2 separate regions of the Homo sapiens genome follow, and region 2 is linked to region 1. A link means that fine-mapping ties the variant in region 1 to the expression of a gene that starts in the linked region. Tissue or cell type: fetal neocortex. Region 1 holds a variant in brackets; the other region holds the start of a gene. All regions are shown on one strand. Distances are between the middles of the regions. Region 1 overlaps ADORA2B (adenosine A2b receptor). Region 2 holds the start of ZSWIM7 (zinc finger SWIM-type containing 7).

Evidence for each region. PIP is the estimated chance that this variant, and not a neighbour inherited with it, causes the effect.
Region 2: it holds the start of ZSWIM7, and the variant in region 1 is fine-mapped to the expression of ZSWIM7 in fetal neocortex (Walker 2019, PIP 0.95).

Annotation. Positions count from the first base shown.
Region 1 is chr17:15,960,708-15,976,310 of GRCh38, reverse strand. ADORA2B (adenosine A2b receptor) reads right to left here. Exons shown (of 2, transcript NM_000676.4): 2 at 565-1,632. The coding sequence ends at 969. Among named protein-coding and RNA genes, the nearest start is that of ADORA2B, 23 kb to the right of the region's middle. RefSeq lists enhancers at 7,249-7,997, 8,248-8,832, 8,833-9,419, 9,420-10,005, 10,006-10,592 and 1 more. The variant T/C (reference allele first, on the strand shown) is at 11,400.
Region 2 is chr17:15,988,652-16,004,254 of GRCh38, reverse strand. ZSWIM7 (zinc finger SWIM-type containing 7) reads left to right here and starts at 4,551. Exons shown (of 5, transcript NM_001042697.2): 1 at 4,551-4,736; 2 at 10,477-10,498. The coding sequence starts at 4,661. TTC19 (tetratricopeptide repeat domain 19) reads right to left here and starts at 4,431. Exons shown (of 10, transcript NM_017775.4): 1 at 4,223-4,431; 2 at 4,010-4,137; 3 at 2,230-2,340; 4 at 1,424-1,462; 5 at 368-424; 6 at 1-54. The coding sequence starts at 4,406. RefSeq lists silencers at 4,078-4,467, 4,818-4,977 and an enhancer at 4,588-4,677.

The DNA.
Region 1 (15,603 bases):
AATTTGGTAGAGGAGGGATCCCATTTCACCAGTTTCTTCCCCACGGGTAGTTTTCTGTATATGGAAAAGAATGGAGCTTAAAATTATGTGATGAAAATTTGACTTATGAGACTATCAATCAATCATTTCCCTAAATTAATACAGCAGTTTCTTGATTGAATACTTTATTTATATATATATATATATATATATATATATATATATATATATATTTTTTTTTTTTTTTTTTTTTTTTTTTTTTTTCTGAGACAGAGTCTCACTCTGTCACCCAGGCTGGAGTACAGTGATGCCATCTGGGCTCACTGCAGCCTCCGCCTCCCAAGTTCACATGATTCTCCTGCCTCAGTCTCCTGAGTAGCTGGCACATGCCACATACCCAGCTAATTTTTGTATTTTTTAGTAGGGACGGGGTTTCACTATATTGGACAGGCTGGTTTTGAACTCCTGACCTCGTGATCCGCCTGCCTTGGCCTCCCAAAGTGCTGGAATTACAGGTGTGAGCCACCATGCCCGGCCGAATAATTATACTTTTAATTTTTGAGGTCACCTTCCTGGCAACAAGTATACATTTTTAGTACAGTCAACTTTTATTTTTCCATTGCCTCTAAGTTAAAAAGTATTTGCATTATAATAGTTCACACTGTTTCACAGTAAAATAGTTTCAGTAATTTTCCACCATAAACAAGGCAGACTTTTAAAAACAAAAGAGTCTGTTAGAATCCATTCAAGCTGTTGGCATAATCCACACAGTAAAAGCAGCTGAATAGATCATAAATATATTTGTCAATCCTTGGAGCCTACTACTGACACATACATATTAGCTAGATACGTGGTAGCTCCAGGGAAGTGCTCAAGAGAGGCAGTCCATTTCCTTGTGAGGTGTAGCTATCTTTCACAATGAAAACCAGCCGTGTCCTCTTTGTTTCTTGTGGATTTGTATCTTCTCCTGGAAGAGGCGAGAGCCTAGATCATAGGCCCACACCGAGAGCAGGCTGTACCCCAGCCTGACCATTCCCACTCTTGACATCTGCTTGGCAGAGAAGATACCTGGAGATAATTTTGTGAAAAGTGTAGCGGAAGTCTCGGTTCCGGTAAGCATAGACAATGGGATTGACAACTGAATTGGCATGTGACAGAAGAATGGCCATATTCATTGCCCACTTGGGCTTATTTTTACCCTGAGCTGGCTGGAAAAGAGTGACACAGTTAACAGCATGCACAGGTAACCAGCACAGGGCAAAAATCCCCACAATCATGGCCAGTGACTTGGCTGCATGGATCTCCCGCTGGAGGGTGGTCCTCGAGTGGTCCATCAGCTCAGTGCGCTGAAGCTGCCTGCAGGCCACCAGGAAGATCTTAATGTAGATCACCAGCATTATAAGCAGTGGGGGCAGAACACACCCAAAGAAATTGAAATATACCATGTAGCTCATGGGGACCACATTCTCAAAGAGACACTTCACAAGGCAGCAGCTTTCATTCGTGGTTCCATCCCAGGGTTCTGTGCAGTTGTTGGTGGCACTGTCTTTACTGTTCCACCCCAGGAATGGAGTCAATCCGATGCCAAAGGCAAGGACCCAGAGGACAGCAATGACCCCTCTTGCTCGGGTCCCCGTGACCAAACTTTTATACCTGTTTAAAAGAATACCATCTGTTACGGTCAGTTTATAGCGCTCTGCAACCACAATCCAAGACCCCACCTCCTCTTTTTTCCATGACCCTTTAACAACCTCTAAAGTTCACCTTCCAGGGCACTAAGGCCTTTACCCTCAATACTAAAGACATGCAAGCAGGGATGAGCAGCTTTGCTCTAGAAAACTCAGTAAGATCTTCATTCTTGACTTAGCAACTCCTTTCTGTTTAGTGACACAGGATGGCCAATGACAAGAGGTGGGGAAGCCTTAAGGGAGTACTGTAAGTCCTCAATGTCCTCGGTGGGTTCTCAAACTGTGACTTGAAGTATATGTCATAGGAAGTTAACTCTTGTTTATATTGTTAAATCAAGTTTAGCCTAAAGCTGCCTCCTTACATATTTTAAATTTGGCCTAAAGGTTTCTCTGTACATCGTGGACTACAACAAGTGGACGTGTAAACAGACTATAGCCTGCACTCATGCCAATCCTCGACTTTTGGCCAATCAAATGTGGCCAACTGTTCGAACCCTGTTCAAAAAGGGCAAATGCTGAGCTATAACCAATCCAGCTGTTTCTGTTCCTCACTTCCATTTTCTGTACGTCACTTTTCCTTTTTCTGTCCATCACTTTCTTTTTTCTGTCCATAAATTATCTTCCACCACGTGACTGCACTGGAGTCTCTGAGCCTGCTTTGGCTCAGCAGGCTGCACAATTTGTGAATCATTCTTTGCTCAATTAAGCTCTTTTAAATTGAATTCAGCCGAAGTTTTTCTTTTAACAGTATCAACTGTGGTAAAATTGGCTTTGTTATACAGTGCATCATTTTGCTTCAAGTCACAGTTTCCAAAAACCGATCGACTTCCTATACTTCCTACCTACCTAGGTACCGCTCTTTGAGTCTAGGTCTTCTGTAAGGCATTGTTCTAGGTCAGTGGTCCCCAACCTTTCTGGCACCAGGGACCAGCTTCATGGAAGACAATGTTTCCACAGACCAGGGGCGGGGGGTGATGCATTAGATTCTCATAAGGAGCGCACAGCGTAGATCCCCTGCGTGCACAGTTCACAATAGGGTTAGCTCCTATGAGAATCGAATGCTGCTGATCTGACAGGATGCAGAGCTCAGGCAGTAATGCTCGCCTGCCTGCTCACCTTCTGCTGTGTGGCCCAGTTCCTAACAGGCCACGGACCAGTACTAGTCTGCAGCCCAGGGGTTGAGGAACCCTGTTCTAAGTGCTTGAGATACATCAGTGAACAGAACACACAGAGATCCCTACTAAATTTTAACAGACTCAGATCTAGCAGGGGTAAACATAATAATAAACAGTATGGAGATATATGTGGTATGAAACATGAAAAAGCAGAGTAAGAAAGATCAGGATGGGCAGGACTGTAGTTTTAAAGAGGCTGACATCATGGATAAGGTGACACTTGAACAAAGGCCTGAGGCAGTAAGCACTGGAGTCAGCACCACCTGTGGCTCCAGGCAAGGATCTTTCTGGCTTCCCACAAACACCACAAGACATTTGCCTAGGACTATGGGCAGAATCATTTCTGAATACCTCTGCAGACTGCTGGAGAACAAGAGTCTAGCAGTGCCCCTGTCTACTGAGAAATACTAGCAGCAGAGTTGATAAAAATTGGGAAATAGCAAATATTAAATTTTTTGGTCATCTTCAAGCCATTAGATCACAAGTTGGAGACCAGCCTGGGCAACATGGTGAAACTCCATCTCTACAAAAAAGTACAAAACTTAGCCGGGCACGGTGGTGTATATCTGTGGTTCCAGCTATTTCGGGAGAATGAAGTGGGAGAGTCAGGATCACTTGAGCCCAGGAGGTTGAGGCTGCAGTGAGCTGTGATTGCACCACTGCACTCCAGCCTGGGTGACAGAGCAAGACCTTATCTCAAAAAAACAAACAACAAAAAAATACTAGAAACCACTACTGGGGATACCAATACAAAGGGACAAGATCCTAGTCCTTAAGAGGTTTGACCAGTATCCAGTTGAGAGATACAACATGTATCAGATAAGCAGGCTCTATGACAAGTGAGTTATGGGGCAAGAGAATGGGAGCGGCCACCTCTGCCTAAGAGGTGACCAAGAAAGGAAGTGACCTTATAAGAGCAACAGATGCCATAATATCCCTTTTAGACATTTTGCTATACACTAGTCTATCCATGGTTTATAGCAAAGGTACACATTTTGTTATTAACAACTGGTCCATAATACATATGTAATGTATAAATGAACATAATCAATGTAATGTATTAAGTAAATGAAATAAAATCCTTCTGTAATCTCTGGAAGAGAAAACTGGGAAATAATTTGATTGACATTACCTGAAGACTTGCCCATGGGAAGTGTTTGTTTGCTTTACCTGCAGTGTAAGACGTATACTTCCCAGCATGGCCGCAGAACCCCCCAGCCTCGGCTCCACACGTCCAGTGCCTGCCATTCTTAACCAATGGCTCCCTCTGGCTCATGCTATTCTCAACATCAGACAAAGCATCTGTTGCTCTTAAAAGGTCACTTCCTTTCTTGCTCACCTCTTAGGTAGAGGTGGCCACTCCCATTCTCCTGCCCCATAACTCACTTGTCATAGAGCTGGCTTATCTGATACCTGTGGTATCCCTCAACTGGAATGTCAGCCTCTTAAGGACTAGGACCTTGTCCCTTTGTATTGGTATCCCGAAGACCTAGCACAGTTCCCAGCACATAGTATGTTCTTAATATGGCCATCACAGGCCAGGCATGGTGGCTCATGCCTATAATCCCAGTACTTCAGGAGGCCGAGGCAGGCGGATCACTTGAGGTCAGGCATTTGAGACCAGCCTGGCCAACACGGTGAAACCCCGTCTCTCCTAAAAATACGAAAATTAGCTAGGCATGGTGGTGGGCACCTGTAATCCCAGCTACTCAGGTGGCTGAGACAGGAGAATTGCCTGAACCTGGGAGGCAGAGGATGCAGTGAGCCGAGATCATTACACCATTGCACTCCAACCTGGGCGACAGAGTGAGATTCCATCTCAAAAAAAAAAAAAAAAAATGGCCATTACAAATACATTCATCATTTATTATCTGACTTTATTAGGCAGCTTTAAAGAAAGATTCTACTTACTAGGAATACTTGAGGTTGCAGCCTGAACAGGCAGAAGAACCAGTCGTTTGCTGAGGAAGTTAGCTGAGGTCTTGCCTCATAATTTACAATGATCTCTAATCTTTTCTACTCCCTCTTAGCAACAGGCAGCTCAATCATGGGCCCCTATACTACAGAAGACCTGCTGGGCTCAGTTTTTTCACTGAATTTGTCTTGGCCAGTGAATTCATCTGTTTCCCACCTCATTCAGGAATGTAAAGCCTTCCTTAAAAACAGTTGTTCTCTGCCATTGCCTCACTGGAGATGTGAATAACACAATTAGTCCCTGCAGCATAACAAGGAAGCCTCCCAAAGGCGGAGTCCTAAGAATCACAGAACTTCAGGTCCATGAGGCAGCCCATGCAGCAGCCTGCCCTTACTCCTCCTTTGTTCACAGGACTAAGCTGTATCGAGTACAGCGGGTAACAGGTCAGCTCTGGGGGATGAATTTATGTTTGGGATAAGGAAATTATGGCACTTCCATTCTCATGATTGGTCTAGTGGATACATGAAGTGGTTCTGGCCAGTGAGACATACAAGGACATCTGCTAGGGACCTCCAGGAAAGATTTTACTCCCTGATGAAGAGAGAGGGACCCATAAGGACAGCTCTGCCCCATGACCATCCTTTTCTGCTTTTGATGCTCTTGTGGAAGGGTGTGATGCCCTCAGCTGTAGCAGCCACACTGTGACCATAAGGGACAAGCCTGGAGACAAAGCTGATGGCAAAGCAGAAGACAATAGTAGAGCCTGGGTCCTTGATGACACCTTTGAACCACCTGACTAACCCTAGAACCATCACAGCTCCATATTCTGGTTTCAAAAGATAATTAAATGTTTCGATTGCTGATAACACTGTGAGGTACTCCGTTAACACAGCCAAACTGGAGAGGACTTTTATCTTTCTAGTCCAATCTCTCTTATTTCACAAATAAGAAAAGAAAACAAAGAAAAGAAGAACAAAGCTAATACACAAACCAAAGACCAGAAGCTAAATCAGTACTCACAGGCCTGTGTTCCTTGCACTATGTTATGCTGCCTCTTTTTTTTAAAGCGATTTTATATTTGCAGCACCCTGTACATAGAGGCTCATTCATAGGGGTGGCTTCCTACTAGAGTTCAGAACAACAACTGGAGTCCACCCCATCTGAACTTCTCATAGCTGCTGGATCCGACACATGTGCAAAACTGTCATGCCTTCTCTTGGATAAGGAAAAGCAGCTAATTAAATCAGTGGGGCAGCTGGTCACTGCCTTCTCTGTAAACCTCCATCACCACCACTCTTCCCTGTTGGTTCATTAGTTCATTCGAAGAGTTTTTCATTTGTACCACACATTCTGCTAGGCACTGGAAACACAATCACTGCCCTTGTGGAACATAAGCTAATGGGAAACACAGAAAATAAGTAAACATATAAATACGAAGTTATGAATTGCGACGGGTTCCGCTATACCAAAATGAACTGGATGCACTGAGAAGAGAAACATGGAGGCCTTGGATACAGGATGTCAGGAGGCCTTTCAGGCAGAAGCTAAAGGTTGAGGAGTGAGAAATTTGAAAAGTAGAACATACCAGGCCGAGAGAACAACATGTGCTGCTTTCATGCAGGAAAATGAGCCCAAGATGAGGCAGGGGCCAGTTCATAGGCACCGGGACCCATGGAAGACTTTTAAGCAGGGGATGGTACTGATTTCTGTTGTATAAAGGTCACCTGGCCAGAGTACGGAGACTGAATTTTAGGGGAGCCAGAAGAAAAGCAGAGAGATCAGCTAGGAAACTATTTCGGTAGTTGACTCGAGACAACGTCGGCTTGGGCCAGGGTGACAGCAAAAATGATGGAAGTGGATATGCGCTGTGGAGGCAGAACCAACAGGTCTTGCAGATCAACAGGTGCAGGAAGATGAAGACTGGAGGATGATTCCTTAGGGTTTCCCCCTACGCATTTGCATTTCCTGAAAGAGAGGATTAAAGGAAGAGTGGGATAAAGATCAAGAGAATGGTGGATGCGGGCACACTGCTGAAAATGATCAGTAGAGAAGATGCAGGAAAAAGGGACAGATTATTATTATTATTTTATTTATTTATTTTGAGACAGAGTCTCACACTGTCGCCAGGGCTGCAGTGCAATGGCGCGTCTCAGCTCACTGCAACCTCTGCCTCCTGGTTTCAAGCGATTCTCCTGCCTCAGCCTCCCGAGTAGCTGGGACTACAGGCGCCCACCACCACACCCGGCTATTTCTTTTTTTGTATTTTTAGTAGAGATGGGTTTTCACTGTGTTAGCCAGGATGGTCTCGATCTCCTGACCTCGTGATCCGCCCACCTCAGCCTCCCACAGTGCTGGGATTACAGGCGTGAGCCTCCACGCCCGGCCAAAGGGACAGATTATTAAAGAAGGTAAGAATGGGAGGAGGTGGAGGATGCAGGGTCCAGGGCATGTGGGGAAGGACACTTCCTCAGCTGCAGTGGAAGGAAGGACAAGAACAGCGCCAGTGCAGGGAGTGGGACAGTTGAGTGGTGAGAAGATGGGCCAGCATCTCCTTGAGAACTGCTGTTACCTCAGAGAAGGATGGAGAAAGTTATCAGCTGAGGCAGGGGAGGAACCGCACAACCAAACCCCAAGTTTTGGTGACAGATGCCTGCACACCCTCCCCCAGCTGTCCGGACACATCCATGGCACAGCTGCCACCGCCTATGCACCTGCTATTTGGGCAGCTCTGGGCTGTGGACCCCTCACATCTCATCAAACCACGCCTCCTGAGGTGAGAGCTGCTATCCTCAGTTTACAGACGTGGAAGCCAAGGCTCAGAAAGGCTACATGATGTGCCTGCTGCTGCTAAACTGCAGTCAGGACACAGACCTCATCTAATCTGATTCCAATTTCGCCCCAAACTGCCATTTTCCTGCATAGGAATCTACAGCTCTTCCATGTTCAACTCACAAATTCCAGCTCCCTCCTCCGCCTGACCACACAGCCATAGGTCAGCAGCTTGAAGACTTGAAGGAAGGGGCTTCTGCCACCCTCCTGGGAGGCAGTCCTCAAGGACAGCAAAAAGAGGCATGCTGGAGGACATAACCAGACCCCTCAGCACAACCTCTGTAGGAAGCGGAGTGTGCTCTGCGATGTTATGGTATGTATGTATAGTCACCTCACCGTATGTACACACAGGGGGTTGGTTGCAGGATCCCCATGTATGCCAAAGTCCTCACATACTGAGGTTCCGCAGTCAGCAGCCCTCCGTATATGTGGGTTTCACATCCCAGGAATACTGCATTTTCAGTCATGTTTGGTTGAAAAAAATCCAATACAAGTGGACCTGCATAGTTCAAACCTGTGCTGTTCAAGGGTCAGCTGTGTTGGCTTTGGTCCACAGTTCCTGGCACATAACTCCCATAGCCCTTGTTACTTCTCCCCAAGACAGGCCATGATAACTAAAAATATATCTTCCTCTGTCTTTCTGTCTTGGAGCTGTCCATAAAGAAATTCTCTGATCTACCTTGTTTGATTGTGACTCATAAGACCCGCATTTCAGAAGGGGTCCTGCCCCTCCCCTAGAAGGAGCCGCACAGAGAGGCCAAGAAGCATTGGAACAGATAGGCTTTGCTGAGTTTCCCCATTCAGCCTGTCAGTCTGAATCATGCCTTTTCGTCCACTCACACTGCCACCCAGTTGTCCATGCTTGAGTCATGTCTATTCAATGGAGAATCCAAAAAAGGGCTACGACGAAAAGGTACGGAGAGCTACAGGACAGCCAAACACATGGAGGTTCCTGAAGGATGGTGCACCCAAGGAGGGCATGGAAACGCCTCGCTCTTTCTCACACCTCACCCTGGTCTATGTCCTTTGTAATATCATTTTTTGTTTTGTTTTGTTTTTTTGAGACGGAATCTCACTCTGTCGTCCAGGCTGGAGTGCAACAGTACAGCTGAGGAAGTGTCCTTCCCCACGTGCCCTGGCCCCTGCATCCTCCACCTTCTCCCATTCTTATCTTCTTTAATAATCTGTCCCTTTGGCTGGGCGCGGTGGCTCACGCCTGTAATCCCAGCACTTTGGGAGGCCGAGGTGGGTGGATCACCTGAAGTTAGGAGTTCGAGACCAGCCTGGCCAACGTGGTGAAGCCGTCTCCACTAAAAATACAAAAATTAGCCGAGTGTGTTGGCGCATGCCTGTGATCCCAGCTATTCATGAGGCTGAAGCAGGAGAATTACTTGAACCCAGGAGGCGGGGGTTGCAGTGAACTGAGTGAGATTGCACCACTGCACTCCAGCCTGGGTGACAGAGCGAGACTCCATCTCGAAAAAAAAAAAAAAGGCAAGCAGGTGTCCCTGCACTGGGCAGGACACTGGAAGGAACGAACCCCTGGGGACTCTGGCATCTCAGGAGGGCTCTGGTAACCACCTGCCACGCCCTCTCCTTTCCCACTTCCTGCTGGGCCTCTGTCCTCTCCCCAGGCCAGTCTCCCTCCTCGGCCCCACCCCTTGCTGCAGACTCTGCCTCCCTCCCTGTGCTCCGAACACCCTCAGGTCTGCATGCGTTTGTCCATCTCCCCAAAACATTCCTGAAGGGCATGGGCCACGTCCTTCCGTCCTTCCGTTCGCCAGCCCGTGGCAGTCACTGCTCTGCTGCAGAGGTCACTGAGCACTGCAGTGAGGCCAGGGAAGCAGGACAACCGCCCCAAATGTAGGAGAGTGAATAACAGGCGACTGAAAAGTGAACACAGGAAACACAGGCAGCTTTATTATTCCAAACAAGGCAGAAACAATCCCAGCCTTTGCAGGCCCACACAACAGGGGAGTTCTGGGAAAGTCCACACTCTGGGAAATGGCTATGCCCCACCACTGTGTACGGAGCTGTGCTCTGATCCATCCATTCTCCTTATAAGGAGCTCATTAGCTAAGGAGATTGACAGAAAAACAGTCACACGGAGGGAATCAACAAAAGGAAACAGCGTGAACACTGAGGTTACGTAAGGAAACGGGGAACCGCCAAGGCCTGCATAACAAGCACTGGCCTATTTCTGGGGCAGGGTCTCCTCCTGCACTGGCTCTGTGGCCCTCAGCTCAAACCAGGCTTAGAAATCAATTCCCAGCTCTCAAGGTGCTCCTAGTATAGATCAAGGGCAGCTACCTGGGGAGTGACATTGAGCCTGGCCAGTCCAGCCACAGGCTGGATGGAGCCTGAGCTTCCCATCGGAAACACTAGCCCCAGAACCCGCCTCCAACCTGCTGCTGAGGCTTTTAACATAGACGGAATGTGTACAAAGCACTTTAGAAATGCAGATTGCTAAGTAAATGCACACAGAGTTCTACTGCCGCTTCTTAAAATTGTTTCCTGTTTGTTTTAGGGATGTTTCTTCCGTTTATAGTCTATCTAGCTCACAAGCTTTAAATTCCTCTGAAATACATACATTTCTGCTATAAAGCAATATATACATTCTTAGAAAACCTCATGTTATCTTATTCCACATATTAACAGGACTTCTGTGAAACATGGGGCTAGAGCAGACCACTCAAACCTACAAAACATTGTCACTAGAGCACTAACAAAATCTTTTGGGACACCCAGGCAGGCAGTTCAGTGGGGCAAGAGGCTGCCACCATGGATATTAAAACTGCACCAAAAAAGTCAAATAGAAAGCCTGGCAAACTTTAATTAGAGCAAGGCTGACAGGTGCCAAGACAGTGCAGATGAAAGAGGAGTTCTGAGCCAGGGGGCTGTTACTAAGATGGGCCTGGAGGCAGCGTAGCCTGCCACGGCCAAGACCCCAGCAGGCTAGGATGTGGCTTTCTACGGGAGTGCCAGCTGCAGGCACTGTTTTTTTCTTGTTCCCAGGAGCCCACAGGGGCTCCTGCGGCAGAGCAGTCAGAGGGCTTTTTCCTTTCCTGCTGAACACTGTCATTCTCCTCCCACTATTCCACCTCCTTTGCCTAGGCAAAATCACAGGTGAACCAAAGCAGTGTCTCCATTATACCAACATCCTTCCCCTGGCCACCTGCCACGCGTGAATTAATTCACAGTACAGAAGTTCACATGGAAGCAGAGCAGCTTATCTGCCCCTGAGCTCTCAGGGCAGCTCATGACCACCCAGAGCACCTCTCCCGTGTACCTACCACACAACTGCATTTTCTGTCTCTTTCCACTGAAGGATGAGCTCCTCCATGGAACAGACTCACAGCTGTATCCAAAACACCTAACACTGCCTGGCAAGCAAATGGTGAGAGAAAGCCTGAGTTTATAAGAAGGGAACAGAACCCTGCCTTCTTAATCAAAGAAACATGTTGAACACCCACCTGGGACTTGGGAGTTCTAAATAAAGCAAGGCATCAACATCAAGTGCATGAACATGGTTTCAGCTTCAGCTTATAAACCACTAGAGGCTATCTATATAAGAGGGGATATTGTTATGACGAGCTTCTGAGCAGCCTCCCATTTTTTCAGATTTCCCATGGGATCAAACTATGAAATTTTGTTTGTTTGTTTTTGAGACAGAGTCTAGCTCCGTCGCCCAGGCTGGAGCGCAGTGGCACGATCTCGGCTCACTGCAAGCTCCGCCTCCCGGGTTCACGCCATTCTCCTGCCTCAGCCTCCTGAGTAGCTGGGACTACAGGCACCCGCTGCCACACGGGCTAA[T/C]TTTTTGTATTTTTAGTAGAGACGGGGTTTCACCGTGTTAGCCAGGATGGTCTCGATCTCCTGACCTCGTGATTCGCCCACCTTGGCCTCCCAAAGTGCTGGGGTTACAGGCGTGAGCCACCGCGCCCGGCCAGATTTTTTTTTTTAATATTCATCTATTTTTCAGATTTCCTATGGTACCAAACTATAAAAGGTTTTTTTTTTAATATTTATGAACAGAAAAATAAATAGAAATTTTAATAGCACTATAACAATTAAAAAAGTAGAATTCATCTTTTCTTTTTTTTTTTTTTTTTGAGACAGAGTCTTGCTCTTGTCGCCCAGACTGGAATGAAGGTGCAGTGTCATGATCTCGGCTCACTGCAACCTCCACCTCCCAGGTTCAAGCGATTCTCCTGCCTCAGCCTCCTGAGTAGCTGGGATTACAGGCGCCTGCCACCACACCTGGTTAATTTTTTTGTATTTTTAGTAGAGACAGGGTTTCACCATGCTGGCCAGGCTGGTCTCGAACTCCTGACCTCTGGTGATCCGCCAATCTTGGCCTCCCAAAGTGCTGGGATTACAGGTGTGAGTCACAGCGCCCAGCCTAAAATTCATCATTTTAAACCTTCCCACAAAGAAAACTTTAGGCCTAGATGATTTCACTAATTCTGCCAAACATTTAAGGAACAAATAAAACCATTCTTACACAAAAACAACAATAAAAAAAGTAGATACTATTAGATTTTACTTATATGAACGGGAAGCAGGCCTCTCTGCCATCTGCGTCCTGAGGGCAAACCACCTTATCTCTGCAGATGGGCACGGCTGTAGCCTGCAGGCCAGTCTGAGGAAAGGACAGCATCTGCCTGCCCACTGGATAGCAAGGTGTGGTCACCAAAGGTTACTTTCAGGCCGAGTCTTCCCAGGAGGCCCTGGCCCCGGGCTGCTCTGGCTCCTGTGGGGTTCTCATCTACTCCAGCAAGTTCAGACATGTCTGAATTCCAGTGATGGACCTGGCTGGGCCTGAGCTGAGCCCACTGTCTTATGTGAAGGTGGCTGGGAGAGATGCCATTTGTCCTTCACAGTCCCCTAAGAACAAAAGATGAGCAATGCAGGTTGCGGTCAAGAAAGTTGGCAGCACTCCCAACCAGCTTCCTATGGCAAGAAGAGGCAATCCAAGGTGGTCCACCAGTGATTCAACCAGTTGAGACTGAGGTTAGGGGCCAGGACCAGGTCTCCCAGAGTTCCCCTTTGGGCCTGGTGATTCTCATGTGCTGTTTTCATGGATCACATGGGACACAGAGACAGCCCAAAGCTACTGGGCTCCAGACTCTGATCTCCTTCCCATAAAATAAGCAGTCCCTGAGAGAAAGGGCTCCTGCCTGGAACCAGACCAAAAGATAACAGGACACTCTGTCCTCTGCCCCAAAAAGTGCCCTCCCAAGGCTGGGGTTACGGAGCACTGCCTCAGATGTGACATTAACTGTCAAAAGCATCAGCCGCCATAAACACAAGCGACCAGCAAGAGGGGTACATGAGAAGGCACTTGGTTGATGTGGTGTCTGCCAGGTTTCTCCATCATAACTTTCCCATTTTAATTAGCAGGTATCTTGTGGTACGTGTTTGGGGACTGTAAGTATCTTACTCCTCATCAAACTTTCACCTACAAGTTTTAGCACCTATTGATGATTCTTGCCTGAATCAGTTCTTACTATGACAGTCGTGAAATGGTGATTTGCTTAACTCAATCATTCCTTTTCATTAATTAGATGGCATTGTATTATAAGCAAGAGTTCTTGTAATTCACTATTTTTTATTAAAAAAAACCTCCTACCTCTGTTTATTGCTAGGGCCCAGAAAAAAGGATACTCCAGTAGCACTGAGCAAATCTACCCAAATCTTGGTTTTTATATATAATTCTCCACTAAAAGGAACCAAGACTCTTTGGAAAATGGCTAGTACTCAAACTGGAAACTACAATGTGAGCCTGGAATACCTTTCTATGCCAAAATATAAGAAAGTGCTCAAAAACAATAGGAACACTCAAACAGAAGTGACCTTGTAAGGGCCCTCTCTCACTGGCTGAATTTGGGCATCAAAATAAATAACAGGGGCCGGGCGCGGTGGCTCATGCCTGTAATCCCAGCACTTTGGGAGGCCAAGGCGGGTGAATTGCCTGAGGTCAGGAGTTTGAGACCAGCCTGGCCAACACGGTGAAACCCCGTCTCTACTAAAAATGCGTGGTGGCAAGGCGCCTGTAATCCCAGCTACTCAGGAGGCTGAGGCCACAGAATCTCTTGAACCTAGGAGGCAGAGGTTGCGGTGAGCTGAGATTGCGCCATTGCACTCCAGCCCAGGCAACAAGCGCGTAATTCTGTCTCAAAAAAATGGAAAAAATAAAAATAAATAAATAAATAACAGGAATGGATTATAACTCGTTTAATGAAAATAAAATTCTGTAAGTCCATACTGACATTAATAAAATAAGGAAGGGCAAGGAGAAGCTAAAGCTTGTCTTTACAGAAGAATGCAAACTGATAAATGTGGAAGGAATGAGGAAAAAAAAGAAAATTACCAATTTTGTTTTGTTTTGTTTTGTTTTGTGTTGTTGTGTCTTGTTTTGTTTTGAGACGCAGTCTTGCTCTATTGCCCAGGATGGAGTGCAGTGGCGCGATCTTGGCTCACTGCAACCTCCGCCTCCCGGGTTCAAGCAATTCTCCTGCCTCAGCCTTCCGAGTAGCTGGGATTACAGGTGCCCACCAACATGCTCAGCTAATTTTTGTAATTTTAGTAGAGATGGGGTTTCACCATGTTAGCCAGGATGGTCTTGAACTCCTGACCTCAAGTGATCCACCCACTTTGGCCTCCCAAAGTGCTGGGATTACAGCCATGAGCCACTGCACCCGGCCTGAAAATTACCATTTTATAATCACCGTGGTTGCTGTGATTTGAATGTGCCCCCCGAAGTTCATGGGTTAGAAACTTAATCTGCAATGCAACAGTGCTGAGAGGTGTGACCTTTAAGAGGCGATCAGGTCATGAGGGCTCTGGCCTCAGGAATGAATTAATGTCACTATCATGGGAGTGGGTTTTTTATCTTAAGAGTGGGTCTGTTATCTTGAGAGTGGGTCTGTTATAAATGCAAGTGCAGCCCTCTCTTGCTTGCTCACTCTCTCACCTCTCTTACCCTCTCACTTTCTGCCATGGGATGATGCAGCCAGAAGGCCCTCGCCAGATGCTGGCACCTTAATATCAGACTTCCCAGCCTTCGTAACTGTGAGAATGTATTTGTTTTCATTATAAATTATGCAGTCTGTGGTATTCTGTTATAAAAGCATAGAATGGACTAAGACAATAGTAGTAACTCATTCAGGCAAGAATCATCAATGGGGAAAACATACCCTTACAGTGAAGAACCCTGGCAGACACAACCTTTACCATGTGATCAGATTTATACCAACAATGGGAGAAACAGACATTGTGTCCTTCTTACTTAATGGACTGACTGAGGATGCAGCACCACTCATGTAGACAGTATTGCCACCAAAAAGGTTTAACCTGAATGTAACCATAAGGAAACAACCAAACTCAAATTGAGGGACATTTGGCAAAATCACCTGAACTCAAAAATGTTAATTTTTTTTTTTTTTCCCCAAGAAAAGGTCTCACTCTGTTGCCCAGGCTGAAGTGCAGTGGTACACTCACTATTGTATTAGGGTGATGCAAAAGTAAAAGTAATAGCAGCTTTTGCCTTTTTTTTTTTTTGACAGAGTCTCGCTCTGTTGCCAAGGCTGGAGTGCAGTGGCATGATCTTGGCTCACTGCAAGCTCCGCCTCCCAGGTTCACGCCATTCTCCTGCCTCAGCCTCCTGAGTAGCTGGGACTACAGGCACCCGCCACCACGCCTGGCTAATTTTTTGTATTTTTAGTAGAGACGGGGTTTCACCATGTTAGCCAGGATGGTCTCAATCTCCTGAACTCGTGAATCGCCCGCCTCGGCCTCCCAAAGTGCTGGGATTATAGTCGTGAGCTACTGCGCCCAGACTTTTTTTTTTGAGACGGAGTCTTGCTCTGTCGCCCAGGCTGGAGTGCAGTGGCATGATCTCGGCTCACTGCAACCTCTGTCTCCTGGACTCACGCCATTCTCCTGCCTCAGCCTCCCGAGTAGCTGGGACTACAGGCACCCACCACCATGCCCGGCTAATTTTTTTGTGTGTGTTTTT
Region 2 (15,603 bases), 28 kb before region 1:
CGCAGCATAGATACTGGCCAGCTTTAGGGAAATTTCAATTATTGCATTGTCCTCCTGTGAGAGAAAGAGAATGAAGGGAACTCATAACAAGTAAATTTTTTCATGGCATATTTCAGATCAACTTCCAGACTGACGGTGGCCTCAAAGCCACAGTCTTTATTCTTTTAGAGTGATGAGCCAACTGTGAATTCCTTGGCAAGCATGCTGTTGCATTTAGTGAAAGAATGGCAATTTGTATAGAGATCTCAGAAGGGAAACTCCACCTTTCCTGACCAAAGCATGTGGTGGGGCTAGGAGGAGTTTTCAGGAGACAAGACTGTTTTGAAAACTGCTTCAGTGAGGGGCCAATACTAGGCAATGTCCTTACCTGCTTCATGCCCCCTCCAAGGAGGTAACTCATTGTTGCTTTAAAAAGTTGTTCAGCCTAAAAGCATAAGGAAAAGATTTTTCTTTTAATTGGGCCCCATTTTATATATATATATATGACCCTGGATTCTAAGTGCCAGTCTGATGCAACATTCCTTGTAAAACCCATATACCCACACACACGCACACTCACACACAGAAAAGTACCCTTTTGAAGCGAAAACAGATCAAAATATCAGGACCCTCAACATCCTCTGTGTACCTTAAACTACTCTCTGATGAGTAGAAAACAACCTCAGAGATTAAGTTCTTATCCAAACCCACTGTGGCAGAGACTACAAACTGTCTCCTAATAGTCATTCTCTTCTCCATCTTTTTGATTACAGAGTCCCCTCGATTTAGCCTGGGAAATATGGTGAAATCCCGTCTCTACAATAAATAAATAAATAAATAAATAAATAAATAAGAAAATTAGCCAAGTGTTGTGGCACACGCCTGGAATCCCAGCTACTCAGGAGGCTGAGGTGAGAGGATCAACTGAGCCTGGCAGGTCGAGGTTGCAGTCAGCCATGATTAAGCCACCGCACTCCAACCTGGGCAACAGAGCAAGACCTTATCTTAAAAAAAAAATTCAGTCAATTTTAGCAGATTGGACACCCTTAAGTTAGATATGGTCATATGATAAAATTTAGGCCAAGGGATGCAGGCAGAAAGAACGTGAACTTCTAATCATGTTTTATAAGGAAGCTGCTCACAGTCCATCTTCTCCCCCTTCCTGCAGACTGGAGGTGAGTCAGCTCACCTAGGCAGAGGAGGGCTTATCTTAGAAGAAACCTGGACTTCTGGATCAGAGAGCAAAGGTGCCTATGTCTGTCTGCCTTCAGTCTTTAGCCTATCTCTGGACTAACACAATAAAGAGAAATACACTTTTATCTTGTTTGAGTCACTATATTCTAGGGTCTCTTTGTTATAGCAGCTTAGCCTGTACTCTTACTATTACAGTTCCCTTGAAGCTACTCCTTCATAAATTCAAGATATTACAAAGCAATTTACTTACATTTTCAAGCTGACCCCGTATAAATGCTAAGTTGGCCATCTGAAAGCAAATTACAAATTGTTTTTCAGTTTAGAATACTGTGTTCCTACTTATTTCAAAACTTTAAAATTCCCTTTTGCTTTCACCCTCAAAATTTAAAAAATAGTTGAAAATGAAAAGCACATCACCAATTAATCTGCAAGAAGAAGCACAGGACAGCAATCATGTGAGAATTAAATACTTGCACATACTTTGTTGTTAACAAACCAAATCTAGGTCCACTCATCATTAAAAAAACATGCTAATGATACTGGTTTTTTTTGGTCTGGAATTGAGAGGTCTTATGTCACCCCAAGGGTAAAAAAACTGAAGCTGTGGCCGGGCGTGGTGGCTCATGCCTGAAATCTCAGCACTTTGGGAGGCCAAGGCAGGTGGATCACCTGAGATCAGGAGTTCGAGACCAGCCTGGCCAATATGGTGAAACCTCGTCTCTACTACAATACAAAATTTAGCCAGGCATAGTGATGCATGCCTGTAATCCAGCTACTCGGGAGGGTGAGGCAAAAGAATCGTCTGAACTCATGAGGCGGAGGCTGCAGTGAGCCAAGATTGTGCCACTGCACTGCAGCCTGGGCAACAGAGTGAGGCTCCATCTCAAAAAAACAAAACAAAACAAAAAATGAAACTGAAGCCAAAAGAAAACTCAGTAAAAAGAAAAGGAGTTTTAGAACATCGTGAAAGTCAGGAATATAAATCAGAAGAACTAACTACCCTTCCCTCCCATCCAACCTTCCTCATCAGTGGTTCAGACTGGTTATAAGAGTTACCAAATCATAAGTGTAAGTGATGGCCTTCTTGTTATCAGTCTGATAGGCGAGACGAAGAGCGTCATGCAAAATTAACTCAGCCTCTTCTGGCTCATCTTTCATAATGCTCAACTGAAAAGGGAAGACAAAATAATAGAAAATGAAACATATAGTAGATGCATATGCTAAGAGACAGAAGTGTATGCAACTGTACATCCCAACTGATAGAAGGAAGCTAACTCATTCATCAGACATTTACTGAATTCCTACTATGTACAAAGCATTGTCTACAGAGATGACAGGGAGGTCAGCCTCCCTTGCAGCTAGGTGTGGCCATCTGATGAAGTTTTGGCCAAGAGACACAGGCAGAAGGAATGTGATCTTACAACATATTTTATAAGGAAGCTGCTTGTCCTCCATCCTCTTTCTAATTTCTTGCAGGCTGGAGGTGACCATATAGGACAAGTAAGCTTAATTACAACTAATGATAAGAGCTATAAAGATGACAGAAAGGAATGATAAGGGGTCTCCTCTAAATAGGACTTAGGGAAGCCTTCCAAGGAAGTGACAGCTAAACTGAGGTAGTAAGGATGAGAATGAGTCAACCAAATAAGGACCTGGGGAGAACAATGACTCAAACAGAGGGTAGAGAATGAGTGAAGTCCCTACAAGCTGAAGAGAATGGTTTTGAGGAAGAAATGCAAAGAAATAGATGTGAAGGGAGGATGGTGAGCCAGAGGATTACTGCCAAATGGGTGGGCAAGGTATATGCTGGTTTAGATCATGTGGGGTGTTGCAAGCCAAGGCAAGGAGTTTGTATTTTATCATAAATGCAGTGGGTAGCCATTCAGAGCTTTCTGACAAGGAGATGACATAATCCAATTTACTCTTTTTTTTTTTGGTCGCTTTGGTTTCTGCATGGAGAATAGATTGCAAGAGGCCAGGAGGCCAGGAAAGACTACTGGAGCATAGTTGGTGGCAATGATGGTTTGCACTAGGGTGACAGCAAGGGAGATAGACAAAAGGGGAAAGATTTGAGAAATATTTTGCATTTGTTGGCAACAGGACTTGTTGCTGGACTGTAAGTGTATTGGAAGGCAATGGTAAGGTACCACAAGTTTTAAGAATGACTATGAGGTTTTTAGGCTGAAAAACTGATGGTAGTAAAGAGATGGCGAAAGCGTATGTTGAGGAGGCATTAAAGATCGTTTAGTTTTGGGCATGTTAAATCTGAGAGGTAGGTATGGTCCTAAAGTGCAAATGGCATGTCAGTAGCACACTACAGAATGGAAATACAAATTTGGACGTTGTTGGCATCGAGTAGGTATTTAGCTCAATGGAAGAGATGAGATAACTTGGGAAAAGAGGAGGAAAAAAAAATAGAAAAGGATGTGGAGAAAAGGAAGAATTCAGGAGGAGAACCGAACCGCATAACCAACACTAAGTTGCCATTTTCAGGCCGCTATATACGTGCGAAATTATGTCATTTCAGATAGGCTGGTTAATTGATAAAACCACTACAAAACGTTCCCGATATTTCGTTTGCATAAAGCGTGATGCCTAGGGCGCCATCTCCATTTGCACTTGACACTGCAGAGGTTTTACTGCAGGCCTTAGAGTCGGAAAAGCCTGGATGGATTCCAATCCCCTCTCGGATGACCCACCTCATTCTCGGCAATTTTACCCGCGGAGCCTCCATCCACTCTTCGGCGAGGCGGAGAGAGTAATGCGCAGCAACGCCAAGACCCCGCTCACAAAGGCTACCGCGCTCGGCCGGGCGCAGGGCCCGGAGCCGCCTCACCTTGGCTCGCTTCAGCAGCTGGATGATCTCTGCCTCGGCCTCGTCCGCCCCGTCCTCGGCAGCGGCCCCGTCGGCTCCCTGCTGCTCCTCCTCCTCTGCCGCAGCGGGCCTCGAGAACCAGGCGAGCGCTGCGGGAAGGGGCTCTGAGGTCATCGGGCCCGGCCCGCGCCCCTGTCCCCGCCCGGCCGGCCCCGCCCGGCCCGCGCCCCTCACCTGCCAGCAGCGGCAGCAGGCCTGGGCCCCGGCCGTGCGGCGCGACTCGGGATGGCGGCACCTGCACCTCGGGCCCCGGACCTCCTGCCAGCCCCGGGAGCAGGCGCGCGGAGCAGCCCCGGCACCGCCGCCCCGCGGCCCGCAGGAAGCCTCGGCCCAGGCTCCAGCTCAGGAGCCGGAACATGCTCCCGCCGCGTCCTCTGCGCACTGCAGGCCAGACGCGCTCCTGGCCCCCGACCACGCGCCGAGCGCCCTCCGGATTGGCCGGGCCCTGACGACTGAGCAGGACATCCCTGCGTCCGCACGCGCGATGACGCGCCCCGACGTCACTCCGTCTCGCCCTGCCCCGGCGGGGGGTCAGGATCCTCCACAGGTAGGCGCAGTCAGCTGGAGCGTCGCGGCGGTCCGCCGGTCGTGGAGGGCGTGTCCTGCGGCGCGATGGCCGTAGTGTTGCCGGCGGTTGTGGAGGAGCTCCTGAGCGAGATGGCGGCGGCGGTGCAGGAGAGCGCGCGAAGTACGGGACCGAGGTCGTGTGTGGCTGCGCCATGGGCGCGGGCGGGGCATCCGGGCACCGCCGGGCCGGGAGGCAGGAGGCGGGGTGTCCGGGCCTGGCCCTGCCTTTTTTCCATGTGGTTCTCTAAACCTCTTGTTCGTAAAAAGACAAAAAAACAAAACAACAAAAAAGCGAAATTGGAACAAGTAAAAGTCAAATCGATTCAGCAAATATTTACGGTACAGCGCAGTTGCAGGAGCCCCTCCGTCGGAGCGAGTAGGCCAGTGGGGACCGAAGTGCTGAGAGCTGGCCGGGTCGCTGGGAGGGGTCCCCGCCCGGGGGTGGAAGGGACGGGAGCCTACAGTGAGTGATAGAAACGTGGAGTTCTTGATTATTTTACACGAAATTTTGAATTATTAAACTTCTTTTTCTCAAATTCTGATGTTAACATTAAAGTTAATGCTTCCATACACTTTAAAAAGTAGGCCCAGCGCAGTGGCTCACTCCCGTAATCCCAGCACTTTGGGAGGCCGAGGCAGTTGGATTACCTAAGGTCAGGAGTTCGAGACCAGCCTGGCCAACATGGTGAAACTTCGTCTCTACTAAAAATACAAAAAATTAGCTGGGCGTGGTGGCGGGCGCCTGTAATTCCAGCTACTCAGGAGGCTGAGGCAGGAGAATCGCTTGAACCCGGGAGGCGGAGGTTGCCGTGAGCCGAGATCGCGCCATTGCACTCCAGCCTGGGCAACAAGAGCGAAATTCCATCTCAAAAAAAAAAAAAAAAGCATTTTAAGAGCCACAAAACCTAAATGCATATGCAATCGTTGGAGTAAATCTGGGTATTGTGAAAGCACCATTTTTTTTCTGACCAGCAGAGGGTACTCTTTGGCTATGCTCACCAAAATCACTTGAGAAGGGTTGATCTCAAGATGTGTTCAGAGTATGCTAGGATAAGATCAAATCAAATTTGATATACTCAAAATGCATTGACTAATGAACTACTCTTAGGATGTAAAAATGGCCACCTTATAAATAACAGCCATATCAGGCCCCCAAACTGCCATCGCTTATTCAACTTGGATGGCTTTTGTTTTAAAAGTACTGTACTGCATTTTGAAAGGGTTTATCTTGAGTTACTGTTTTTAAGGAACTGAGAAAAATAAGCCAACTTTGTTTCCTCATCTCAGTCAAAATTAAGGAGACTTAAGTATATGTGCTTGAAAGATTAGTGCAGCCAAGTATTCAAACATACTTGTTTCCAAAAAGGATGGGAAAAAAGCCAACTGATGTTAGCTTATACAATTGTTCTGGGCTCTCAGATTTGATGGCCTGAGGGTTTGGAATGCTGTCACTTTAAACAATAATCGCCAGAACTGTTCTGTGTCTGAATAGGTTAATCCATACACTGACAGTAGTTTGGGTTGGTTTGTTTTTTTTTTTTAGACAGAGTCTTGCTCTGTCTCCCAGGCTGGAGTGCAATGGGCGATCTCAGCTCAGTGCAACCTCCGCTTCCCAAGTTCAAGTGATTCTCCTGCCTCAGCCTCCCAAGTAGCTGTGACTACAGGCGCATGCCACCACACCCGGCTAATTTGTGTATTTTTAGAAGAGACGGGGTTTCACCATATTGGCCAGGCTGGTCTCAAACTCCTGACCTTGTGATACGGACACCTCAGCCTCCCAAAATGCTGGGATTACAGGCGTGAGCCACCGTGCCCAGCCAGTTTTGGGTTTTTTCCCTCCAACAAGAAGGTTCACAAGACACATTGACAGTCCTGAAGGGGGCATAATCATTGCCCCTGACACCCATGGTTCAGACACAGGAACCAATGCTGTTGATTCATGTTTATTTTCAGAAGCCCTGTTTTCTGTCTTTTTCAAAATCTTTTTTCTATTAATATATAGTTATGCACCCTTCCTAACCCCCATTCTTCAGTGGTAATTTTTTTAGATCAAGATTCCAAGTTTTATTTGTATGATGATATATAAACTAGTCACAGTGGAACCATGTAGGAAGCTATGATTACTTTTTGTTTTCTTTGTAACTTTTGGATTTCCCTGGAGTTACAACTATCTTGGTTTTGTTTATGTGCTTATTTAGTTTTTTACATATTTATTCCTACTTTAACCTCACATCCTTTACTAGTGTTCTCAATCTCCCCTCAAGATGTTCAGATGAACGAAGTATGTTATCAGTTTCACCTTCCTGAAGACATCTCTAGAGCCTTCGGACTTGCTTAATATGGACTGGCTGATCTCTCGGCTGTTTGCTGAGATCTCTCTTAACCATTATTATCTGGGAATTCTCTGTATCTTTGTTGGGTCCTATGTTTAGTATATCCTACAGTTTTCTTTTTCTCAGTTTACTACCTCTTTTTTTTTTTTTTGAGACAGTCTGTCACCCAGGCTGATGTGCAATAGCATGATCAAAGCTCACTGTAGCTTTGACCTCCTAGGCTCAGATGATCCTCCCACCTCAGCCTCCCAAGTGAGTATCTGGGACTGCAGGCACACAATACCACAGCTGGCTAGTTTTTTGTATTTTTTGTAGAGACAAGGTCTCACTATGTTGCCTAGGCTGGACTCGAAGTCTGGAGCTCAAGAGGTCCACCTGCCTTGGCTTCCCAAAGTGCCAGGATTACAGGCATGAGCCACCGCACCCGGCCCATGTAAAATTTTTTTTTTTTTTTTCGAGACAAGGTCTTGCTCTGTCACCCAGGCTGGAGTGCAGTGGCACAATCATAGGTCACTGCTCCCTCAACCTCCCAGGCTCAAGAGATCCTCTTGTCTCAGCCTCCTGAGTAACTGGTACCACAGGTGTGCACCACCATGCCCAGCTAGTTTTTGTATTGTTTGTAGAGACGGGGTTTCACTGTGTTGCCCAGGCTTACTACCTTATATTATGGCACACAGACTCTGCCAGCTTCCTGAAGAAGGGGGCATGAGATGTACCTTTTGAGGCTTTCTTTTCTATTTTTTGAGACCGGGTCTCACTCTGTTCCCCAGGCTAGAGTACAGTTGCGCAATCACACCTCATGCCCAGCTGATTATTTTATTTTCTGTAGAGACGGGTCTTCCTTTGTTGCCCAGGCTACTCTGGAACTCCTGGGCTCAGGCGATCCTTCTGCCTTGGCCTCCCAAAGTGCTGGGATTATAGTTGTGAGCCCCCACACCGGCCCCTGTTTGAGGCTTATGTCTGAAAAAGTTGTGGGGTTTTTTTGTTTTTTTGGGTTTTTTTTGAGACGGAGTTTCGCTCTTGTTGCCCAGGCTGGAGTGCAATGGTGCAATCTCTGCTCACCGCACCCTCTGCCTCCTGGGTTCAAGGGATTCTCCTGCCTCAGTCTCTCGAGTAGCTGGGATTACAGGCATGCGCCACCATGCCCGGCTAATAGTTTTTCTATTTTTAGTAGAGATACTAAATGTTAGTCAGGCTGACCATCGCGCCCGGCTGAAAAAGTTCTTTTTCTGCCCTTACACTTAAGTGATTGTTTGTCTAGGTATTGAATTATTTGTTGGAAATAATATTTCTTCAGACATCTGAAAACATTTTTCCACTACATCTTAGCTTCTAGTGTTACTCCTGATTTTTGTATGTGACCTTTTTTTTCTCTGGAAGTTTGAATTATGTTTTCTTCATAACCAGTGTTCTGAATCTTCTGATAAAGTTTTTTTTTTTTCACTTCACAGTGTGGGCACACAGTGGGCCCTTTCAAGCTAGAAATTCATGTCCTTCAGCTGTGGGGAATTTTGAATTATTTGATTGATGAATTCCCTCCATCTGTTTTCTCTGTTCTTTCCGGTATTTCTGTAATTAAGTTACTGGATGTCCTCTGTTGTCCTTCTGGTTGACTTACTGTGGCTTCTGTGTTGCTTTTATATTTTCTCTACTTCCTGGGAACTTTCTTGAACTTTATCTTCCAGATTTTCTGTTGAATTTCTGCTGTCTTTTTTTTTTTTTTTTTTTTTTAAGAGACAGGGTCTTGCCGGCCACAGTGGCTCATGCCTGTAATCCCAGCACTTTGGGAGGCCAAGGTGGGCAGATCATCTGAAGTCGGGAGTTCGAGACCAGCCTGATCAACATGGAGAAACCCCGTCTCTACTAAAAAAATTAGCTGGGCGTGGTGGTGCATGCCTGTAATCCCAGCTACTCTGTAGGCTGAGGCAGGAGAATTGCTTGAACCCGGGAAGTGGAGGTTGCGGTAAGCCGAGATTGCGTCATTGTACTCCAGCCTGGGCAACAAGAGCGAAACTCCGTCTCAAAAAAAAAAAAAAGAGAGACGGGGTCTTACTGTGTTGCCCAGGCTGGCCTCAGACTCCTGGTTTCAAGCAATCTTCCTGCCTCAGCTTCCCAAGTAACTGAAACTACAGAGACATACCATGTATTTTTAATTTATAACTTTTTTTCAGAAGATTCCCTTTTTCTTCTTATTATGCCTTCTGCCTGTTTTTGTGCCTGTTTTATGATTGCATTAACTTTTTTCTGATGATAAAATATTAGTAATAGATGTTTAAAATTTTCTCCTTTCTGCAGTTTTTCCTCTAACTTTCTTCTGTTTGTTTTATTCTATTTCCTTTTTCCTTTGTTGTCTGGTAACCCTTGGCTGTCTAGTCATATTTCAGAGTGGAAGACTAAAAAGTATATTGGAAGCTCTGGGTGGTAGAGGGGCTTACGGAATATGAACGTCACTATAGTTGTTCTCAGTAGGCTATTTAGTTGGGGAAACCATTTCAGTGTCATTCCCACTTCTCTTGGGGTATACCTAGGGAAGACTTCCAGTCTCCTGGCTGAAGTGTGAAGGCCTGATTGCTTGTGTTATGGGAGCCATGTTAGGGAAGAGAGCAGGAGATCCTGTTTTCAGTGTGACACCCTGACTTTCACTGTACCTAGTATTTTTCCCTAGTCCAAATAGCCTGTGTTTGAACCTCTCCAGAAAATAAACCTAGTCTCTTGCCAGAATGAGGGAAAGGCAGTCACCTAAAGCTGTGGAGGGAACTGGGGTCCCACTACTTCTCAAACGTACTCGAAAAGAGTCTTATTTTCATATCCCTGTTTCACCCCTAATGAAGCTATTTGGTGCCACCAATTCGTTAGGGTTTGGGGAAGGGGAGAGGTGGATTTTGGAGTGTAACTCAGGCTGGTGCTTGACTCTCCCCATTGCTGGCCTAGGATTCAGTTTTCTTAGGTCTTATAAATCATTTTCCACTCTTCTATCAGCTTCCAATGTATCATGGCTGTTGTTTCTCCCTGTCTTTCTCATCCTTTGGAATTCATACTTTTAAAAACAAATCTGGCCGGGCACGGTGGCTCATGTCTATAATCCCAGCACTTTGGGAGGCCAAGGCCAGTGGATCACTTGAGGTGAGGAGTTCAAGACCAGCATGGCCAGCATGGTGAAACCCCATCTCTACTAAACATACCAAAAAAAATTAGCTGGGCATGGTAGTGCATGCCTGTAGTCCCAGCTACCTGGGAGGCTGAGGCAAGAGAATGGTTTAAACCCGGGAGGCGGAGGTTGCAGTGAGCTGAGATTGCACCATTGCACTCCAGCCTGGGTGACAGGACAAGACTCCGTCTCAAAAAAAGAAAAAGGAAATCCTTTTATTATGGTTTTAGTGGGGTTTGGGGAAGGAGTAAAACCAGATGCATAGGTTCAGTTGACCATCACACACGGAAGTGTTTTTAGTTACAGTGTTTTTTAAGATTTTTATGTCAATGGTCACTGCTTAATATGATTAACTTTTTTTTTCCATTCTCATTTTACAGTTCCTGATGAATATCTGTTATCGTAAGTACATATACTGTTGTATTTGATTTTTTTTTAACCATTAATGTTAAAATCCTTTCAACATCAACTCTTGATTTTTAAAAATACTCTTGACCGGGCGCAGTGGCTCACGCCTATAATCCCAGCACTTTGGGAGGCCAAGGTGAGTGGATCATGAAGTCAGGAGATCAAGACCATCCTGGCCAACATGGTGAAACCCCATCTCTACTGAAAATACAAAAAATTAGCTGGACGTGGTGGTGGGCACCTGTAGTCCCAGCTACTCAGGAGGCTAAGGCAGGAGAATCACTTGAACCTGGGAGGTGGAGGTTGCAGTGAGCCAAGATCATGCCACTGCACTTCAGCCTGGGGACAGAGTGAGACTCTGTCTCAAAAATAAATAAATAAATAAATAAATAAATAAATAAAATAAAAAATAAAAATATTCTTACTACCAGGCACTGTGACTCACACATGTAATCTCAGCACTTTGGGAGGCAAAGGCAGGAGGATTGCTTGAGCCCAGGAGTTCGAGACCAGCTCTAGCAAAATAGGGAGACCCCCCATCTCTACGAAAATAATTTTAAAAATAGAATAAAAGGCCAGGCACCGTGGCTCACACCTGCAATCCCAGCACTTTGAGAGACTGAGGTGGGTGGATCACTTGAGGTCAGGAGTTCAAGACCAGCCTGACCAACATGGTGAAACCCTGTCTCTACTAAAAATACAAAAGTAGTGGGATGTGGTGGCACACACCTGTAATCTCAGCTACTTGGGAGGCTAAGGCAGGAGAATTGCTTGAACCCGGGAGGTTGTGGTTGCATATCTCGCTGCGATTGTGCCATTGCACTCCAGCCTAAGTAACGAGCAAAATTCCATCTCAAAAAAAATAAAAAATAAAAAATACTCTTAGAAACTAGGAATAATATTTTCTTGACATGATTCTTAAAAATTTGTCTCAATTGAATAGCCAACACCATATCCAGTATTGTCATATTTGCCACTCTTATTTAACATTGTTTTAAAAATTGTGGCTGTTGGCCGGGCGCAATGGCTCACGCCTGTAATCGCAGCATTTTGGGAGGCCGAGACGGGCGAATCACCTGAGGTCAGGAATACAAGACCAGCCTGACCAACATGGAGAAACCCTGTCACTATTAAAAATACAAAATTAGCCAAGCATGGTGGTGCATTCCTGTAATCCCAGCTATTCGGGAGGCTGAGTCAGGAGAATTGCTTGAACCTGGGAGGCAGAGGTTGCTGTGAGCCAAGATCATGCCATTGCACTCCAGCCTGGGCAATAAAAGCGAAACTCTATCTCAAAAAAAAAAAAAAAAAGCGTAGCTGTTCAACTAACACATGAAAAAGAAATTACAAATGTACCTATCTGCAAGGAAAGACAATTATCATTATTTGCAGTTGATACAACTACTTAAATGAGAATAATATAGAGTGGTCAGTTATTTTAAAAATGCAGAGACCAAAAAAGTAAAAGCTACCTAGGTATAAGTAATACTTAATTACTGATACACACTTACATTTAAAAATCCTGGCCAGGTGCGGTGGCTCACGCCTGTAATCCCAACGCTTTGGGAGGCTGAGGCGGGTGGATCACCTGAGGTCAGGAGTTCGAGACCAGCCTGACCAACATGGTGAAACCCCGTCTCTACTAAAAATACAAAAATTAGCCGGGCATGGTGGCAGGCACCTGTAATCCCAGCTATTCGGGGGGCTGAGGCAGGAGAATCGCTTGAACCCAGGAGACAGAGGTTGCAGTGAGCTGAGATCATGCCATTGCACTCCAGCCTGGGTGACAGAGGCAAGACTCTGTCTCAAAAAAAAAACAAAACAAAACAAAACAAACAAAAAAAAACAAAACCTGTCCCAGGAGGACTGTTTGAGCCCTGAAGTTCCAGGCTGCAGTGAGCTATGATTGTGCCACTACACTCCAGCCTGGGTGATGTGAGACCTTGTCTCTAAAAAAATAAAAGTTCTGAAGAATATATACCAAGCTCTACCAGTGTTTTTTCTTTGGGGCAAGGAAGGAGGTAGAATTGAGGGAACGGCCTTAACCTTTACTGTATTTCTTAAATTTTTAATAAGAATTAAATATTACTGGAAAAAAATGTACTACTTTAAAAACAAAAGGGCAAAGAATAAAAGATGTAAATAGCCGAATCCTTTGGGAGGAAAAAGACAAATCTTACTAGTGACCACAAAAATACAAATTAACATAACATAACTTTTCATCTAGAAAATTAGTGACCACAGAAAAGAAGTTGACACAAATATGGGGAAAGGGGTCATTTATAACAGGAATGTAAATTGCAGGGTAACAGGCAATAGGAACTTTAAAACATACATATTCTTTGACCCAGAAATTCCACATAAAAGAACATATACCCAGGAAGTAATTATAGATGTTTGTAAAGATTTTACAGTGAGGATATTCTCAGTGTGATGAATATCCAGTATTGTTTATGGTAGCAATAAAACATAGAAACAATCTAACAATTCATGGAGTTTGAGGAGAATAAAAATGATTCATCTTTACAGTAGAATTATTTGTAACCATTAAAAGTGATATGGAAAAATTTTTAATGCATTCAAGAGATGTTCACAGTAGGTATTAAAGTGGACAGAGCAGGTTAAAAAAATTCTTTTTTTTTTCAGACAGTGTCTCACTCTGTCACTGAGGCTGGAGTACAGTGGCGCGATCTCAACTCACTGCAGCCTCTGCCTCCCAGGTTCCAGTGATTCTCCTGCCTCAGCCTCCTGAGTAGCTGGGACTACAGGTGGCACACACCGAGGCAGGTGGATGATGAGGTCAGGAGTTCCGCCTGCCTTGGCCTCCCAAGGTGCTGGGATTACAGGCATGAGCCACCACACCTGGCCTTAAAAAAATTCTTAAAGGTAACTGTTGAGATTGATTGGTAAGGTTCCCGACAAATTTTATTTCATTGTTTTTTGTATTTTGTTATTTTATAGACTAAATCTTCATATGTTTAATATAAAAATTCAAAGCACTCTTTTCTATTTCCCCCAATAATTTGTTGTATATGTGGCTGGTTTGTTGGAAAATGAAGTAAGAAGTTGAACATTTTAATTTTGAAGCCTTACTAGGTTTGTCTTACTCTGTGTTAAGTCATATAAGTTCTTTAAAACATTAACTTTTCAGTTTGAGTTTAACCCTGCCATTTTATTTTCTAGTTTATAAAAATAACCCACACTTAGGCCGGGTGTGGTAGCTCATGCCTGTAATCCCAGCACCTTGGGAGGTGGGATGCGCCTGTAATCCCAGCTACTCGGGAGGCTAAAGCAGGAGAATCACTTGAATCTGGGAGGTGGAGGTTGCAGTGAGCAGAGGTCGTGCCACTGCACTCCAACCTGGGCAACACAGTGAGACTCCAACTCAGTAATAATAATAATAATAATAATAACCCACACTTATAAAAAACTTTTATTGGAAAATAAAACCTATAAAAAGCATCAATAATCATACCACCCAGTAATAATCACTCTTAAATTTTGGTTTATTGCTTTTTTTTTTTTTTTTTTGAGACAGAGTTTCGCTCTGTCACCCAGGCTAGAGTGCAGTGGCGCGATCCCGGCTCACTGCAAGCTCCGCCTCCCGGGTTCACACCATTCTCCTGCCTCGGTCTCCCAAGTAGCTGGGACTACAGGTGCCTGCTACCGTGCCCAGCTAATTTTTTGTATTTTTAGTAGAGACGGGGTTTCACCGTGTTAGCCAGGATGGTCTCGATCTGCTGACCTCGTGAGCCACCTTCCTCGGCCTCCCAAAGTGCTGGGATTACAGGTGTGAGCCACCGCGCCTGGCCGGTTTATTGCCTTTTCAAAAAATTAAATTTTGGCCAGGCATGGTGGATCACGCCTGTAATATGAGGATCGCTTGGGGCTGGGAGTTTGAGACCAGCTTAGGCAGCACAGGGAGACCCTGTCTCCACAAAATCAAAAAATTAACTGGATGTGGTGGTATATACCTGTAGTCCCGGCTGCTAGGGAGGCTGAGGTGGTGGGAGGATCACTTGAGCCCAGGGGGTTCAGGCTGCAGTGAGCCATGATTGCACCACTGGAATCCAGCCTGCCTGGGTGACAGAGAGAGACTTTGTCTCAAAAAACAAAAAACAAACAAACAAAAAGGCCAGACACGCTGGCTCACACCTGTAACCCCAGCACTTTGAGAGGCCAAGGCGGGGGGATCACCTCAGGTCAGGAGTTCAAGACCACCCTGACCAACATGGCAAAAGCCCATCTCTACTAAAAAATACAAAAATTACCTGGGCATGGTGGCCTGCACCTATAATCCCAGCTACTCAGGAGGCTGGGCCGGAGAATCTCTTGAACCCCGGAGGCAGAAGTTGCAGTGAGCCGAGATTGTGCCACTGCTCTCCAGCCTGGACACCAGAGTGAGACTCCATCTCAAAAAAAAAAAAAATTAAACTTTTAATTTTGACATAATTGTAGGTTTCCTTTAAAAAAGTTAACATGCTTGAGAGTTCCTAAAATATAATTTTGTCTTCAACCTTTCTCACCTAATATTATAAGAATTTTCTCACATATCAAAGTTTTTTCCTGTATATCATTTAACAGTTGGATAGCCTTATTACTAATCCAAAAAGTACACATTTATTATCTTCAGATGGGCAACATAAAAAAGCCTGATAATACTGGTGTTAGTGGGGACATGGAGAAAGTAGAAGTTGGTTTTTCTGTTTGTTTGTTTCATTTATTTTTTTTTTGAGACGGAGTCTCCCTGTTACCTGGGCCAGAGTGTAGTGGCGCGATCTTGGCTCACCGCAACCTCCACCTCCCGGATTCAAGCGATTCTCCTGCCTCAGCCTCCTGAGTAGCTGGGACTACAGGCGTGTGCCACCACGCCCGGCTAATTTTTTGTATTTTTAGTAGAGACGGGGTTTCACCATGTTAGCCAGGATGGTCTCGATCTCCTGACCTCTGGTGATCTGCCTGCCTCGGCCTCCCAAAGTGCTAGGATTACAGGTATGAGCCACCGCGCCCGGCCTGAGAAAATAGAAGTCTTATACAGTGCTGGTGGGAGTGCTGTTTTCACTTTTTTGTGTGTTTTAGTTTTTTTTTTTCTTTTTTCT